Linked DNA regions of Homo sapiens. The protein of the gene in region 2 purifies or fractionates together with the protein of the main gene of each other region. This does not show direct contact. Each region holds a gene or a part of one and is shown on either strand. Other genes may lie near its edges.

Region 1 (2,960 bases), on a different chromosome or scaffold from region 2:
TATGAGGGCATCAGGATGGAAGAAAGCTTCGTGTGGTGCAGCCCTGCAGTGAGGCTGGTGTGGGCTCACAGCCCATCCATGCAGGGTGCAGGCTAAGCCTGGCAGTCTCAAGAGGGCAAGAAAAGCATGGGGACAGGTGAACAGGGGAGGGTCCCAGCTGCTGTGCCAGTGTGGTCCTTGAGACTGGGTGCCTAAGGGTTACCTGGCAAACCTGTAGCACATGCAGCTCCCCTCCCCAGCACACTCAGCTTCAGGAGGTTGGGAGGAGCCGGGCACAGGCCAGAGGGGCCCCCCCCACCGACCCCCTGATGCTGCCCCGCTCCCAGGTGCTGAAGCTCTGGTTCCCTGACCCTCAGGCTGAGAGACTCCTAACGAGCTGGGCTGAAACTCTGCGTGCTGCCCTGGTTGGGAGACAAGTTCCACACCAGAGAAGACACTCAAGTGGCTGCACAACCACCTGTCACCAGACCAGGGCGAGTTCCAGCTTTCCCACTGAGTGCCCTGTTAGCTTGTGGAGTTTACTGTGCTTCCCTCTCAGGCAGGGTCTTCCCAGTGCCACTTGGCTTCTGGCCTGGGCTTCCACAGCCTCTCCCAGATGGCAGCTCTGACCCCAGAAGCCACGCTTCCTGGGGACGCAGCTTGGGTGCACTGTGGAAAGGAACTGAGGCTGTGGCTACAGAAAAACAGTTAACACCTTCTGTAAGATGCTTTATTTCATTGACCAACAACATGGGGTCTGAAAACCCAGCGGGAGGGGTCTTTTTATCACAGAGCCAGTCCCAGGCGAGCTGATGCATCTCTGCTCCTCTGCCCCTCAGGAGCTCTCATCCTCCAACCCCAGCTGCCCCCACAGCCCCACCCCATTCACAGAAAGAGGGCTACCACGTGCCTCAGCCCCCCTGCCCAGGCTGCCAGCTCCCAGGTCCTTTTGGAGAAGGACTGATCTAGGCAGGGAGGAGAGAAGGCCAACCCCTCCAGGGCTCACTGAGGAAGGCCAAAGCCTTTCAGAAGCAGTTCCTGCAGTGACGTAATCCACAGCCTGGGATCTGCATGGCCCTGAGATGCCTGCGGCAGGCTGGCCAAGGGGCTGGTGTGAAGAAAGAGGGCAGGGCCCATAAGCTGTGGCCAACAGGGGCAGGGGCCCTGCCTGGAGTAAAGTGCTCTGGCCTAGGCTGCGTGGGTTTCACTGCCCTGCAGCCCCAGCCTCCCTTCCCTCTGATGCCAGGCACAGGGAGCCTAGTCCTCACTGGAGTTGTCAAACTCCTCCCAGTCAGACACACTCATCACCTCAGAGGCAAAGTCCGGGTCGGCCTGGCTGCGGTCAGGGGTCCCGCGGGGCGGCTCAAGGAGCAGGGAGCGGGGCAGGGTGAGCACACAGGCCGCCAGGCCTGAGATGGAGTTGTCCAGCTGGGGCCCTTCCTCCCAGCAGTCCTTCTCCACATCGTAAATGTGCACGTAGCCTGTGCGGCTGCCGCGGTTGTGTGAGCGGCCACCTAACACATAGATCCTGTTGTCCAGCACAGCAATGCCAGGCTCACCGTGCCCAGCAGGGAGTGGGCAGACAGATGACCACTGTCCAGACGTGCAGCTGTAGCAGGCCACCTGCAAAGCCAAGGCTAGAATAAAGCCCAGCACCCACTGGGACGAGGCTGCCAGCTCCCCCACAAGCCCACTGACCAAGGTGGCAACAGTTACCCACCATTCTGACAGGTCAGGCCCCCTGGAAGGATGGCACAGGGCCAGTGTTGAAACATCCTGTCCATGGGCCAGGCTGCTGCTTTCTCACCCAGGGATGGCCGAGTCTGCAGGAGGCTGTCTTTTGGGCCCTCCCCTAGAATGATCCTATTCTCTCTGGCTTTGCTCCAGCCCAGCCCTTCCTCTAGGCCACCCGGCCCTAAGCCAGTCTCTGCCCCCGAGTGTGTGGCTGTGCCCCCATCAGCATGTGGTCATTCCCCATGTCTGAGGGCACTGCTTCTCTCCCCTCCAGGAAACGAAGCTGCCTGAGAGACATGGACTCCACTGAAATGTCTTCAACCTCCTTCTGCAGCACTCAACACAGGCAGTAGGACAGGGGGAGGAGACAGAAAGTGGAAGTAATTCCTTGCGGAGTAGTCAACATCAATATTCTCTTGTCTTCAAAATTGTCCAAACAGTAAACAAAGACATGGAAAAATGTTCAACCTACTAGTAATTCAAGAAACGCAAAATCAAAACATCAGAGACAAATTTTTCAACTAGCAACCACTGCAGAGAAGGAAAATCACAAAACCCAATGCTGTTGAGGGTGTGGTAAAGCCATACTACTATGTATCTGTCTGACATGCCAGAAAAGGAATTTGGCAATAAGTATTAAGAGCCATAAAAATCTTACCTTCTTGACTGATTAGCCGTTTTTGGTTCTCTAGCTATGGTGGGCAGAATAGTGGCCCCCAAAGATGTCTAGTTCCTAATCTCCAGAATATGCTACCTTAAGCAGCCAAAGGGGCTTTGCAGATAGGATCAAGGGTACAAGAATACAAAAAAAAAAAGGATTAAGGGTGCAGACCCTGAGATGGGGCAGTTTTCCTGGATTTTCCAGGTGATCCATCCAATTGCATGAGCCCTTAAAAGTGGAAGGGGAGAGGCCGGGCGTGGTGGCTCACGCCTGTAATCCCAGCACTTTGGGAGGCCAAGGCGGGCTGATCACAAGGTCAAGAGATCAAGACCATCCTGGCCAACATGGTGAAACCTCGTCTCTACTAAAAATACAAAAATCAGCTGGGCATGGTGGCACATGCCTGTAACCCCAGCTACTCGGGAGGCTGAGGCAGGAGAATCACTTGAACCCAGGAGGCAAAGGGTGCAGTGAGCCAAGAGCACCACTGCACTCCAGCCTGGCGACAGAGCGAGACTCTGTCTCAAACAAACAAACAAAAAAAGTGGAAGGGGAGGCCGGGGGTGGTGGCTCACGCCTGTAATCC
Region 2 (7,000 bases):
AAACAAAAGCATTGAACCGGTTCCCTCTAGCTGCTGTCCAGCTTCCCTCCTCCCTTCCATGACTGTTTCTTCAACTTCTTTAACAAGCCGCTAGTCTTGCTCCATGTCCTCACCACAGCTCTGTGCAATCTGCCATCTAACCCATTCCCTTGCAGAGCAGCACTCCGGAAGTCTCCTGACCACTGCCTGATGGCCCCAAGACTGCTACCCCCTCAAAAGCCTCCCAGCGGGAACCCACCACTCTCAGGCAGGCCAGTCCATTTCCAGCCTCTCCGACCTGAGGCCACCTTTCCCTCTGCTCTTCCCCACCCTGCAGGCCACAGGTCCTTTCTCTGCCCTCCTTTCCTGCATTCTCCCTGTCATTTATTTCCTTCAGTCTCTCACCTTAGGCAGGGGCTTCTAAAACTGCTTCCTAACCGGTCTCATAATTTCTACGGTCACTCGCTCGCTCTCTTTTTTAAAGAGACAGGGTCGGCTGGGTGCAGTGGCTCACGCCTGTAATCCCTGCACTTTCGGAGGCCGAGGCAGGTGGATCACCTGATGAGGTCAGGAGTTCGAGACCAGCCTGGCCAACATGGTGAAACCCTGTCTCTACTAAAAATATAAAAACTAGCTGGGTGTGGTGATGCACATCTGTAGACCCAGCTACTCCGGAGGCTGAGGCAGGAGAATCGCTTGAACCCGGGAGGCGGGGGTGGCAGTGAGCTGAGATCATGCCACTGTACTCCAGCCTGGGCAACAGTGAGACTCCACGTCAAAAAAAAAAGAGACAGAGTCTCGCTTCGTTGCCCAGGCTGGAGCATGGTGGCTATTCACAGGTGTGATCATGGCCACAAACTCCGGGTCTCAATCAATCCTTCCTGCTCAGCCTCACAAGCAGCTGGGACCACAGGCACGTGCTACGAAGCTCAGCTTAGGCTCTTCTTATCCGATGTAACCTGAAAATTCTCCTGAACTAAATTTTCCTAAAACAGAACTTCCATCACGTCCCCTGGTGCTCACAGCCCCACAGACTACTGCTCACCACTGCCTGCAAGATGAAGGCTGCTATTCTCAGGCTGGCAGAGGCAGGCCTTCGTTACGGTGAACTGAGCTACCGTGTGCAGCCACAGGGGCAATGCTGTGTCTTCAATGTCAGGAAATCTGCCTACATGTCATCTGCCTCACATGCCCGTCTTGTTTCACTCACACTGTCCCGTCTGGCCCTCCACACCAAGGCCTCCTTACTGAATTGCTTCCCCTCTTTCAGTGCCCAGAAGACATGCCACCCTCACCACAAAGCCCTGCTAAACCCTGGATGAGACCCCCTGCCCTGCTGGAGTTCTGAGGATTTATTTCTAAGAGGCTCTAACACAGAGTCCATGGCACGTGCTGCTTTCCTTCTGTGCATCCTGTCTGCCCTGCACAATCAAGGCTTTCAGCTTTTTGTGGCAGGGACCAAGCCATCCATCTTTCTTTTTTTTTCTTTTTTTGAGATGGAGTCTCACTCTGTCGCCTAGGCTGGAGTGCAGTGGCGCGATCTCGGCTCACTGCAAGCTCTGCCTCCCGGGTTCACGCCATTCTCCTGCCTCAGCCTCCCAAGTAGCTGGGACTACAGGCGCCCGCCACCACGCCCAGCTAATTTTTTGTATTTTTAGTAGAGATGGGGTTTCACCGTGTTAGCCAGGATGGTCTCGATCTCCTGACCTCGTGATCTGCCCGCGATGGCCTCCCAAAGTGCTGGGAATATAGGCGTGAGCCACCGCGCCTGGCCCCATCTTTCTTTTAACAGCCATAAAAATACATGCATTATTGTGAGTTATTTAACAAAGCACACTATATACAATTACAATCCTTCCCTTGTGATTAGGCTAAAAAAAATTAATAATGTTTTTAAAAAACAAATTATTTTATATGATTATTGTATTTTCGTTTTCAAAATTGACAAAGTGATGTACTGATTATAAATCTGCAGTATTAAGAAAAATATGACTTAAAAATGTGACTGTGTTAAGAAAAATATGACTTAAGAGGGAAGGGGAGGTTTTCAGGTAGAAGCCAATCGTACTGAAGAAAGCAGTGCGATGGTGGCTCCTAGCGCAGAGGGAAGGCAGTGCTTCACTGCACTGACCAGGACTCGGTGGGCGCCAGGTCCCCACAGCACTAACGGCAAGTGGTGAAGAGTGGGTACAGAGCCCTCAGGAGGCCTGCCCATGTACCCACCTCTGCCTGCTCCTGCATTTGCTGAGGAACTTGGAAAGCAAAAGGCAGGGCCGCTTGCCATGAAGAGCTTGCAAAGCCCTTACCCTCCTACTTAACACTGATCATGCTGGTTGTTGATTTTTATTGGGGAGAGGGTAAGGAAACACTCATTAAAAAGAAAAACTACCATTGCAGATGCTCAAGAACTCTTAACATCTGTCTTTCTATTCACTGATTTTTGAGATGGGGTCTTGCTCTGTTGCCCAGGCTGGAGTACAGTGGCGAGATCATGGCTCACTGCAGCCCCAACTGCCCAGGCTCAAGTGATCTCCCACCCCAGCCTCCCTTGTAGCTGGGACCACAGGCGTAGGCCACCATGTCCAGCTAATTTTTGTATTTTTTTGTAGAGATGAGGTCTTGCTATGTTGCCCAGACTGGTCTTGAACACCTGGCTCAAGAAATCCTCCTGCCTTGGCCTCTGAAAGTGCTGGGATTACAGGTGTGATCCAACATGGCTGGCCTAAAATTTATTATTTTAAAAGAAGTCTAAAAATTTGTAGTTGGCCGGGTGTGGTGGCTCATGCCTGTAATCCCAGCACTTTGGGAGGTTAAGGTGGGTGGATCACTTGAGGTCAGCAGTTCGAGACCAGCCTGGCCAACACGGTGAAACCCCGTCTCTACTAAAAATACAAAAATTAGCCAGGTGTGGTGGCAGGTGCCTGTAATTCCAGCTACTCAGGAGCCTGAGACAGCAGAATACTTTGAACCCAGGAGGTGGAGGTTGCATTGAGGCGAGATCGTGCCACTGCACTCCAGCCTGGGTGACAGAGTGAGACTCTGTCTGCTCTGCCACCGCCCCGCCAAAAAAAAAATGTGTAGTTAATGAACTGTCAAAGTATTTGAAACAGCTGCCAACTTTGCATTTCTCTGTCTTAGGCACTGAATCTCCAATACTGATCCACTTGATCCTGAATGAAGACTGCCACGCTGTGGTTCCTGCTAGTCAGGAACTCCTTGTTCCTAGGAAGAGCCAGCTGCCAACTGAAACTGCAGGCACCCTGAAGGCAGACCACTCTGCTCACCCTCAACAGCACCATGTCGGGCCAGCGTGTAGGTGCCATCTTACAATGTGTATCTAAAAGCTTCCTCCTGAGTGTCTGCCTCAGGCCAGGGCTCTCTGCCGGGCACCGAAACCTACTCATATCAAATGCTAACTATGAAGCAAAACACTGGCCAACAATGAATCATATAATAAAACTTGATGGAATGACCTAAAGTTTAGGAAATTCATAAAAGTTATAAACACTACGTTAGAACAGTAATAGAAAAAGTCATCACAGCACTAGTAACAGCACCAGCCACTACTGTAAACCAAGCACAAGGACAAACACACTGCGCAATTTCATTCTGTCCTCATGACTACTCTCTGAGGCATGAGCTCAGCTCCATTTTACAGACAGGGCCACAGAGGCCCAAGGAGGTTAATCAGTAAGTCACCTAGAATTTGAATCCAGGTCTACTTGGCTCCAAATCATGCTGCAAGACACTGTGAATGAGGCAATATTTCTAGAATAAGAAGAGCAAATTTTCAGCTAGGTCTGGCTGAAGAGAGGGGAAGGTTTTCCAGGCAGAAGCAAAACCATACTTAAGTCAGAAGTTGGCATGATCCTAGCTCCTGAGCTCCCAAGCTGTGTGGCCTCTGAGAAGCCACCTTCTCCGGCTGGTTTCTTCACTTGTGCATTGCTGTGAGGATGAAATAAAATGACCCCGATAGAGCCCAGGGATAGCACGGCATTACCTACCTGAGGTGTCCTCCTCAAACAACTGGGCACAGCGGGGGAGGGGGAGGTGGATTCCCTATTCCAGGGTGGCAGACTCCTAGCTAAGGTTTATCCTCTCTACACATCTGACAAATGGCTGCTCCGGATGCATTTAAAAGTCAGTATTAATGAAGGACTGCAAAACCTCCTGGAGGACGCAGAAGGACGTGGACTAGGTGAGGATAGGGAGGACATTCTAGAAGGAAGGTATGGAGAGCAGGAAAACTGTGTCCGAGTAGGATAATTCCAGGCTGGGCTGTAACGAGGTCAGCACAGAGGTAAGAACATGAGAGCTGTGAGCCAGATGAGGCATGCGCAGAGAGGAGCATAGGAGAGCCTGCGCAGGTCCATGTGGGGCGACCACATCAGGCATGGATTTGCAGGTGGGGGATTAAGGAAAGGGAGGCCCCTGCCCTCATCTGACAACCTGGTGCCATTCCCACTTGCCCAGTCTCCTCTCCCTTCTGCAGGGACAGCCACGGCAGACACTGCTTGGTCCAGGAACACCTTCCTGCCAAGGGTGCTCCCCACTGCTTGCAAGGTGAAGTTCAAAATGCTTCTGAGCACAGAGGAGCCCTCAGCTGTGGCCCAACCTACCTGTGCAGCCTCACTTCCTAGCATCTCCCTCCATGTGGGCACGGCCCCAGCCCTTGCCACGTCCTCACCTGTGTCTGCTGTCCCCCCAACCAGGAATGCTGACCTCCTGGTCTCCACGTCTGCACTTGACAAGGCCCTGCTCACTCTCGAGGGCCTGGTTTACAGGACACCATGCCCTGGACTTCTGGGATCATCCTACCAGGTCTAAGTCTCCCGGCCCCTGCCACCAAGCCCCCTGCAGGGGCCGCTGTCCTGCACCACAGCCTGTGTTTGCACTGTCCTTCATGTTCAACTCAGCCACGTGAGGGCAAGGGCCAGAGGGCTGCGCTTTCCTCAGCCCACGCCTAGTCTTTCATGTAACAAAGACTAAGATGGATGTGGCCCCGTGGGTAGGCTCTCGCTCAGTGAAGGCACTGAGAGGGGAGGCACTGATTCATCAACAAAGGGAGGCAGGCGATATCAAACAGAGGACATCCCAGTGAGAGTCAGAAGAGATGCGCTGAAGGCGGAGAGGCCAGTGCTGCTCGTGGGCTCAGAGGAAGCAGCAGAAGAGCCAATGTGCATGGGGATTCCACGCACTCCCAACCGCCTTGGCAGAGGCTTCAGCGGACTGACTTTGAGTGCAGCATCTCCTAGGACATCTGCCTCCCTCAGGATCCTGTGCCTGGACCCAGCCCTCCTAGGGTAAGATAATTATGTTTCTAAATTTGGGTTTCTTTTAGGATACCATGTTTCTCATCAGAAACACTGGTGCCTCATCAGTGATAGCAATGCTGTCACCAGCTTACTGTATTATTTCCAAAGTGCTTGAGCTCACCTTCTCATCTGTGCTGAGCAAGTGGACCCAACGGCAGGGCCCTTCACTGCACCCCCATCTCCCTGGACACTGGAGGGTCGGCTCTATCTGACAACATGAGGAAGCCACGTCAGGGCAGCCTGACGCATGCCCGTTATATACGGCGTGGACTTTCCAGCTGCCCATCTGGCTTCTGGCTCGGTTCAGCCAAAGGAAAATGGAAGGGGGACATCATGTACTGACTGCTCTGGGCCACCTCTCCCCTAATGGGAGGCCACGTCAGGCTGGCTGTGGCCACCTGCCCAAGGGCACTGCTTTTCTCAAGGTGGACTTGTTTACCCAGCTCCTTCCTCCCCACCCTTTGGGCTGTTGTCGCCAGCCTTGTTTACAGCACGACCCCCTGTGCGTTATCTACGGCCCAGGCCTTGTCAACAGCCTGCTTATTAAGCCCTCCTCAGATTATCACCACCTGAGTGTGTCATCTGTTTTTCTGTTGGGACCAAGATGACGCAGACATATAGAAAAATTCTCAGCTTTGTTATTAGCGAGAGCCCCAGTTGGGGAAGGATCTGGATAAAGGAAAAGAAAGAAGGAGCCAGTATAAAGGGGGCAGCAAATACCACATTTTCATCAGAGTACTGACCCCAAACCTACAGGCTGGTCTATTTACCGGCAAATAGAGCAACATTCCTTCCCAGTGCTCTGCCCAACACCACCCCTAGTCTGGGAAGGGGAAGCAAGGCAGAGCTGAGCAGGGACAGAAGTCGGAAGCCAACTGTCGCTTTCATTGTATGAATTCCCTTCATGCAAAATAAAGAAGACACAAAACAGAATTCCAAAGTTAATAGAAATGTTTGGAATTTCTGTTGTTTGGAATTATCCACACCACAGTTCGCCTCAAATACTACAAATAAGCACAGAGGGAAGGGGTGTAGGTCTCACAGGTTTCGTATCTGGCCGAAAAGCACACGAGAGACGGGGTCTGCCCAACACGTGCTCACTTCCTCGCCCACAGAGGGTTCTGCATCCACGTACCTGGCATCCTTTACTCGCTCATTAGCTTGATAATAACCAGCAATCACGTAGCTATGATCTTTGCACCATGAATCAATCTGAAAGAGGAACAAAAATTGGGAAAAGATGAATGACTCTCCCTTAAATATCAAGTCGTAAAAACCACAGATCTCACTGCCACATGCTGGGACAAGACATGACAGAATCTTAATCCTCATACCCTACACCCCAGAAGAAAGGGTAGGACTCAGGAAAAAATGGTCAGGAAGGGCAGGACTTTGAACATAAGGAATGACTATCTTCCTCAGTCCCAGCGAGAAGACCCTTTGTCTACAGGTACTGGATTGGTACAGTGCTGCAGAGAGTCAGAGGGAAGATGACCTTCACCTACCTTCTCTTATACTATAAAGAACTGGGGCTTTAGAAATGCTTAAAATTATTTAAATCATTATCCTTCATAGTTAAGGAAACAAAGCTTAGAGAGGTTCTAAGTTTGCACAACCAGATAGAAACAGAGCCAGAAGGGAATCTCAGTCTCTTTCAAAACAAGTCTTTTAGGCCAGGCACAGTGGCTCACACCTGTAATCCCAGC
Region 3 (7,177 bases), on a different chromosome or scaffold from region 2:
CTGGGTACCTCTAGGACTGGATGACAAAGTTGCTGAGGGATTACAAACTCATGATCTAGGAAGAAGCCGGGAAGAGACTTTTTTTTTTCCCTAGATGGAGTCTTGCTTTGTCACCCAGGCCAGAGTGCAATGGCACAATCTCGGCTCACTGCAACCCCTGCCTCCCGGGTTCAAGCAATTCTTCCGCCTCAGCCTCCAGAGTAGCTGGGATTACAGGTGCATGCCACCATGCCTGGCTAATTTTTGTATTTTTTTTTTTTAGTAGAGATGGGGTTTCACCATGTTGGCCAGGCTGGTCTCGAACTCCTGACCTTGTGATCTGCCCGCCTTGTCCTCCCAAAGTGCTGGGATTACAGGCGTGAGCCGCCGTGCCCGGCTGAGAAGAGACTTTTTAACACAGTAGATAGCTTGAAATACTCAAAGGGATCTCACACCAAAGAGGGATGAAATTCATTTGGAATGGTTCCAGAGAGCTAAACAAGATCCAATGTATAGATGAAGTTAGCCAATGGGAGGTGGATCCAGCCTAGAATGAGACTGCTTTAATGATTAGAGCTGTCCAAATACAGAATGGACTGCCTTTTACAATCTCCACTGCTTTACAAGGAGCTGTAGAGCATTGGGAAGTTGGCTGGGGCCTCTTTTACAAGTCACTTATTTCCACTGTCCATTTCTGTCTAACTTGCTTTTTAAACCAGCTTGCCTTTTAGCAGCTAATGTCCTCCTTTATTAATGCCTTTGAAGTTCTTTAATCAAATCATCCATCTTTCTGAATCACAGTTTCTGTTTTCTCTCCCTGTCCTCAATTGATTGAATGTACCTGCAATCCTTGCTGAAAAATAGAGTATTTCTAAAACCTATTCTTACTTTTAAAAACCCTTCTTAACAAGAAGCAAGTACAACACGATGCATAAAATAAATTAAGCACAAGTTTATTTCTACATGAGAGAAACTAGATATTTCTGCCTTTGGGAGACTGCGTTTCTGATAAATTTTGGCAACCCATCAACAACAGCTTTCAGAGACACCAGCAGGTTGAGGAACCAAGAGCATAATTGTTATGATGATGTCTAAGGGGGCCAATTCTGGGCTTAAAATCACACTGTTTCAGCTTAAGAGAGTATTCCAGCCTCCAGTAAATAGAAAGCTTGCAGAGAACAGTCTAGGAGGGCAATGGCAACGTGGTAACAGTACCAATGTGAACTTGAACCTTCCTTCTTTCTGAGAAACCTGTAATGCTGTCTAGCTTTGTTTTTGTCTGTTTGTTTTAAACTGACTACACTTCACAGTCATTCTCATGAGGCAGGTAGTTCAGAGAGGCCCTCTAGTTTATTTCACAAATTGGAAATCAATGAACTTGAGTTCACTGAAAATTTGCTGAGGCCTTCCTATGGGGGAGGCCCTTTGCAAGTCACTTATGGGCTAGGGATGGTGGGACTAATTCATTCATTCAAACAGCAGGCATTTAATAAATGAGGAGCATAGACTAGGGACTGTTCTTTGTACTGAGGATGGACAAGATGGACAGGCCCTGTTCTTATGGAGCTTCTGTCCTAGAGCTCCATGAGACACTAGGAGACAAGCAGTTAACAGCTAAACCAAAATACAACATCACAAGTAAGCACTGTGAAGAAAACTGACCGGGCACGGTGGCTCATGCCTGTAATCCCAGCACTTTGGGAGGCCGAGGCAGGCAGATTACCTGAGGTCAGTTCGAAGCCAGCCTGGCCAACATGGTGAAACCCCATCTCTACTAAAAATACAAAAATGAGGCAGGCATGGTGGCGTGCACCTGTAGTCCCAGCTACTTGGGAGGCGGAGGCACAAGAACTGCTTGAACCCAGGAGGCCGAGGTTGTGGTGAGCTGGGATTGTGCTGCTGTCCTCCAGCCTGGGTGACAGAGAGAGACTCTGTCTCAAAGGAAAAAAAAGAAGAAAAGAAAACTGAAAAATGTGATGGAAGGTGAATTGCCGAGAGTAGCCACTTTTTAATTTATTTATTATTTAATTTTTTTTTTGAGACAAGGTCTCACTCTGTTGTTGCTCAGGCTGGAGTGCAGTGGCGTGATCACAGATCACTGCAGTCTTGACCTCCTGGGTTCAAGCGATCCTCTCTCTTTAGCCTCCTGAGTAGCTGGGACTAAAGGTTCAGGCCACCACGCCCAGCTAATTTTTTTCTTTTTTTTTTTTAGTAGAGATGGAGTCTCGCTATATTGCCCAGGCTGGTCTCAAACTCCTGGGCTCAAGGGATCCTCCTGCCTCAGCCTCCCAAAATGCTGGGATTACAGACGTGAGCCACTGTGGCTGGGTAGCCACTTTAGACAGCAAAGACATCTCTGAGGAGGGGACATGTAAGCTGCGATCTGAATGGAAAGAGAACGACACAAGTGAAGAAGATCTGTGGGAAGAGCATTCCATACAAAGGCTGAGGTCAGGAACTCCTCCAGAAGCTCATAATTGCACCAGAGGTGCTTACAACCCCAAGCAGTGACAGTGGCACAGAATATTCAACATCAAATGCCTAAGCTAATTTCCAGGCTGAGAAAGGTAAACCATCCTTCTCCTGCCTGCAGTGCTTCTATCGGTCCTGAAAGAGACAGAGGAGGTAAGGGAGAAGAATTGGTACGAAATGGTGCAGAGCTGGTCTCAGAGGGCAACAACAGCCAGCCCTCCATGACCACACTCCCACCGTGCACTCACGTGCCCCTCTTGAAGCGGCTCTGATCCTGTGACCTAACCAGTTTCCACCTGGCTTCTCTCAGTGCGTTGCCATATAGTATAATTTTTTGTTTGTTTGTTTCGTGTAGGGTTTTGTTGGTTCTTTTCCAAGTATCAATCAAAACTACATGCCAACGTCCACTCCTTGGAAATAATTAAATGACATGACGTGCCTGATTTTTTCAGCTGGTGATGCACTGTAATTTGCATCTGCTGAAGGAATTTATCTTAAGTCCTGAAGCCCAGCCACTTGAGACAACTGAGGTGATTTTTCTGCTCTGCTTTTGCTCATGCGGATGGTGCGTTATTGTTAAACACAAAAGTGGACTAATTGCTTCATTCTGCAACCTACTCCGTGAAGAAAGCTGCTCTTCTTTGTGAAGAGAATATGTTCATGTTTTGTTCATGAATTCCATGCAATTTCCCATCCCCTTGTTAAGTAATGTAGCTTCTTTATATTGGCAAAATTCCCTTTATCTTGCTGTGACCTGCGCTTTGTCCTCCCGAGCAGAGCAAATCATCTGTGGTTTAAGAGCAGCTTTGGATTCAAGTCCCCTTTTCTCCTGTCGAGGGAAGTGAGTCTATGAAATGGCCTTCATCTGAAAGCCACAGCGAAGCACCTCCTAGCCCAAGTCTAGCTGCTGTGTGGCAGCTCCAGCGGCGTGAACTGTGACTGCCCTGCAGACACCTATCAAGCGCTGCGTCAGCTATTAATAATAAAATCAACTCTTCTCCCTCCCCCCCGCGAGGGGGGTTCCCTCGTCAGGGCCCAGAACCCGCTGGGGAAGAATCGGGGCTGGCGTGCGAAGGAGCTGGCGGCAGGGGGTGTAGGATGCGGTGTTCCCGAGGCGACAGATGAAGGATTTGGGTTGTGTGGGAAGTGAACTGCGGAATTCCTCCCCTTGGTTTCTGAGGGGGGCTCTGAAGGAGCCAGATTAGGATGCAGAGCGCAGCCCGGGCGACCGAGGGCGAGGAGGCGAGCCAAGGACATCAGCCCGAGGGCGCCTCGAGACGCCCCGCGTGGACCGCGCTCCCAGCTCCTCGGCCTCGCCTTCCAACCATCCGCCCACCGGCCCCAGAGCAGCGTGCCCACTGTGAGCGCCCCACCCTGCGTCTGCAGGTGGGTGGGTCAGAGAACCGCAGGCACAGAAGAGGGTACCCAGCTTCCCCTCCGCCAGCCCCGCGACCGCGGCGCGCGCGGCCTCGATCCGGGTTCCTAGGGGCGGCGCGCGGGAGGGGGCGGGGCCTGCGCGGCAGCGTGGGCGCCAGGCGCGCGGGAGGAGGGAGCCGGGAGGAGGGGGCGGGGCCGCGCCGCCCGCGCCGCGCTGGGCGCTCTCGGCCAATGAGCGGCGTCCACATGCCGCGGCGGCGGCGAAAGGGGAGGCAGCGGCCGATAAATGCTATTAGAGCAGCCGCCGCGGAGCCGTCCCCGACGCCACCTCCTTTTCCTTCGCCGCAGTTTCCTCCGCCGCTGTCGGGCGTGCGGCGCTGAGGGACCCGGGCGAGCGCGCCGCGCACCGCCCCGCCGGCTCGCCTCCCTCGCCGCGTTCCGCCCTCAGTGGTCTGCCGGGCGCCCCCTCCTCCGGCCCGGGCGGGGCCTCTGATCGCCTCAAGAGAGCGGGGAGGGGGCTCGGGGGCCGCGGCCTGCCCTCCCGGCGGGCGGCTGAGGGCGAGGGAGGCCCTCCCTTCTGGCGAGGGGAGGGAGGGTGGGTCAGGAGCCCCCAACCCGCCCTGCGGAGCTCGGGGCCGCGCGAGGGGCGGTTGTCTGGGGGAGGGGGCGCGGGGTGATTCAGCGCCCGGCGAGGCGGAAGCGGCCGCAAGAGGAGGAGGGGAGAGCCCGTCCGCGCCTGGGCTCCCGGGGTGGCACGAGCCCGCGGCCGGAGTGCGAGGCGGAGGCGAGGAGGCCGCGGGGACGGGAGGCGAGGCCGGCCGGGCCCCCGAAGCCATGGAGAACGCGCACACCAAGACGGTGGAGGAGGTGCTGGGCCACTTCGGCGTCAACGAGAGTACGGGGCTGAGCCTGGAACAGGTCAAGAAGCTTAAGGAGAGATGGGGCTCCAACGGTAGGTGCAGGGCGCTCCGCTGCAGGGGCCCGGCGCGGCCGGGAGAGCCAGGGAAGATGGCTGACCGGGCTCCACCTCGTGGGCTTCGGCTCCGCGCCCGCCGACAGCTGCGGGCGGAGGGTCGGGCCAGCGCGCCGGCCCCGCGGGAGAGAAAGGGGCTGCGGTCCTCGCCTCGCCTTCCCTGGACCTCTTCGCTTCTCGGGCCCTCGACCTTTTCGGCGCGCAAGGCTCGGAGGCTTCTCTCCAGCAGCAGCCGGCCCCGGTGGAGGGAGGGACGTGGCTTCTGCAGCTAGGTTGAGCCCGGCAAGACGTTTTCTCGTCCCCTGCCGATTTATGAGGAGTCGAGGTCGTTGGAAGGCCTCTGACCGTTCTTGTCCTACCCAAAGTTACACATCTGGCAGAAGTGATGACATCGCTGAAACCACTCCTAGGTTCAGGAGCCCGAAGTGATTTCACGCTTAGGGCTAGACCTCAGGCCATTGATTACAAAGAGTGCATGCTTCCTTGAGATATCTTCGTGGTATGCCCTCTGCTAAAAAAATCGGATATTCTTATAGCTAGGTCTGTGTTTTAAAGATATTGATGCTTAGAATTGTAGCAGTTCTTTTTAGAAAAACGAAGTGCTAAAATGTCTCTCTCTTTTTTTTTTTAACCTCCCTCTTGACACATTGCTTGACGAATTTCTACATTCTACAGAGTTACCGGCTGAAGAAGGTAATCTTAACATGCTGTTTCTGTTTTTTTTCCTCTGTTGGTGTGCTGATGGTAAGATGACAGTTAAAACACATGTGTTTGTTTCTTACAGGAAAAACCTTGCTGGAACTTGTGATTGAGCAGTTTGAAGACTTGCTAGTTAGGATTTTATTACTGGCAGCATGTATATCTTTTGTAAGTATAAAAAAATTTATTTTCTTTCCCCCCAAAAGCTGAAAGTATTCCATAGATAAATCAGAAAACAAATGATGTCCATTGGGTGAAAACATATTTGGAGTTGCAAGCTGTGTCTCTATGTTTAAAAACAATCTGGGCATTTTAAAATTACAAAACAAAACACTTGAAGCCATTGGTATTCAGAAAATAGATGCCTGACATTTACAGTGTGGTTAGGAGTTGTCCCAGAGTGTGGCATGGTCTTAGAAATTCTTGTGGTTTATCAGCTTTTAATATCAAAAAGTTCTTTTCTGGGAAGCCTTTAATGTTTTGGGTTCTTCCATTGTTATCGTGTTGTAAGATCATACTAAGATGATGTTGGACTCTTTGTAGTCTGTAAATAGAACTTACAAAAGGAATATTCCAGTTGCTTTCCCTTCCTGGTAATGGCAAGGTGACAGTTGTTCCTGACGGTGACAAGAATGATGACGGCTGTGATGGCACCCTTGTTGACCAAATTTGGTCACTGACCTTTAGGGTGGTATATTTATCTAAATTGGACCCCTGTCTTAAGTGATTCTTAGGTTGAAAGAACAAGGTTTAGTACAGTTGGTTCTAGATCTTAAAGGAAAAAAACCAGCATGGTGTTTTTTCTTGTTCTGTGTGTGCTTACCCACTTGAGTGCTATATGGTTGCTAAGAAACTAGTGAAATGCAAAGAACTACAGCAGAAAAAGGGTGTTGGGGTGGCAAGTATATTTCTAGGTTTTTAACTTTTTTTTAAATGTTCGGTATTAATTTTTTGTTGCATTTTTTTTCTTGGGCAGTAGATTGCTTGCTAGTTTTCCTAAAAATGGTCAGGAATAGGACACAGATGTTCCTAATTCTAATAGCATGAGATGCCTTTTATTCTTGAATTACGTTATTCTTACAAAAACCACGATAAGTGAAATTCACCCAGTGCAGTACTTCTTTCTAGTTAAAACAAAATTGACAAAACTTCACGGTTTCAGTTCTTGTACATATATGTATGCAGGTCCCAGGGATCAGCCTCAGTCTTTGTGAGAACCATACCATAGAGGGCTATTTTGAGAACGAAATAAACAAAGCAGTGGGCATTTATTTAGTTCAGATGAGGAAAAGATTAAATTTATACCCATCTTTTAAGTAGATAGTGGCAGCAGTAAATAAATTTGTGGAATAATTTTTACATAAATCCTGCTATGATACTTTATTATGCCATATTAGCCAAGTATTGTGTAGCCATTAATAATTCAGTCCCCAAGAACCTTTTCTGTGGTTTTCATTGATTAAAATGGGGACTTACATAGCAAACCATTCAGCATTCTGAGTCAGTCACAATGTACCTCTGATAAAATGTTTCTTCTTGATTGATTAAAAAATTTTCCCCCAGAAAATGGCTGCTGTTTTACCAATTAAGGGAAATGAGTAGACCCGATTAACTATAGTTTATCAATACATTGTCATGGGGCAAAATAAATGATACATTTGGAGCTAGTGTAAGATT

The links.
Region 1: the proteins of EMC8 (region 2) and KLHL22 purify together in Homo sapiens (co-immunoprecipitation; 2 studies listed by IntAct). This does not show direct contact.
Region 3: the proteins of EMC8 (region 2) and ATP2A2 purify together in Homo sapiens (affinity purification with mass spectrometry; 2 studies listed by BioGRID and IntAct, with this or other methods). This does not show direct contact.

Annotation. Positions count from the first base shown.
Region 1 is NC_000022.11:20,440,837-20,443,796, forward strand, and holds the end of KLHL22 (kelch-like protein 22), read right to left. Parts: intron 2,368-2,960; exon of another isoform or gene 1,988-2,367; intron 1,603-1,987; coding exon 1,237-1,602; 3' UTR 683-1,236; downstream 1-682. UniProt on the Homo sapiens protein: Substrate-specific adapter of a BCR (BTB-CUL3-RBX1) E3 ubiquitin ligase complex required for chromosome alignment and localization of PLK1 at kinetochores.
Region 2 is NC_000016.10:85,782,545-85,789,544, forward strand, and holds part of EMC8 (ER membrane protein complex subunit 8), read right to left. Parts: intron 6,507-7,000; coding exon 6,430-6,506; intron 3,925-6,429; coding exon of another isoform or gene 3,827-3,924; exon of another isoform or gene 3,748-3,826; coding exon of another isoform or gene 3,713-3,747; exon of another isoform or gene 3,679-3,712; intron 1-3,678. UniProt on the Homo sapiens protein: Part of the endoplasmic reticulum membrane protein complex (EMC) that enables the energy-independent insertion into endoplasmic reticulum membranes of newly synthesized membrane proteins.
Region 3 is NC_000012.12:110,277,128-110,284,304, forward strand, and holds the start of ATP2A2 (sarcoplasmic/endoplasmic reticulum calcium ATPase 2), read left to right. Parts: upstream 1-4,119; 5' UTR 4,120-4,662; coding exon 4,663-4,780; intron 4,781-5,476; coding exon 5,477-5,494; intron 5,495-5,585; coding exon 5,586-5,668; intron 5,669-7,177.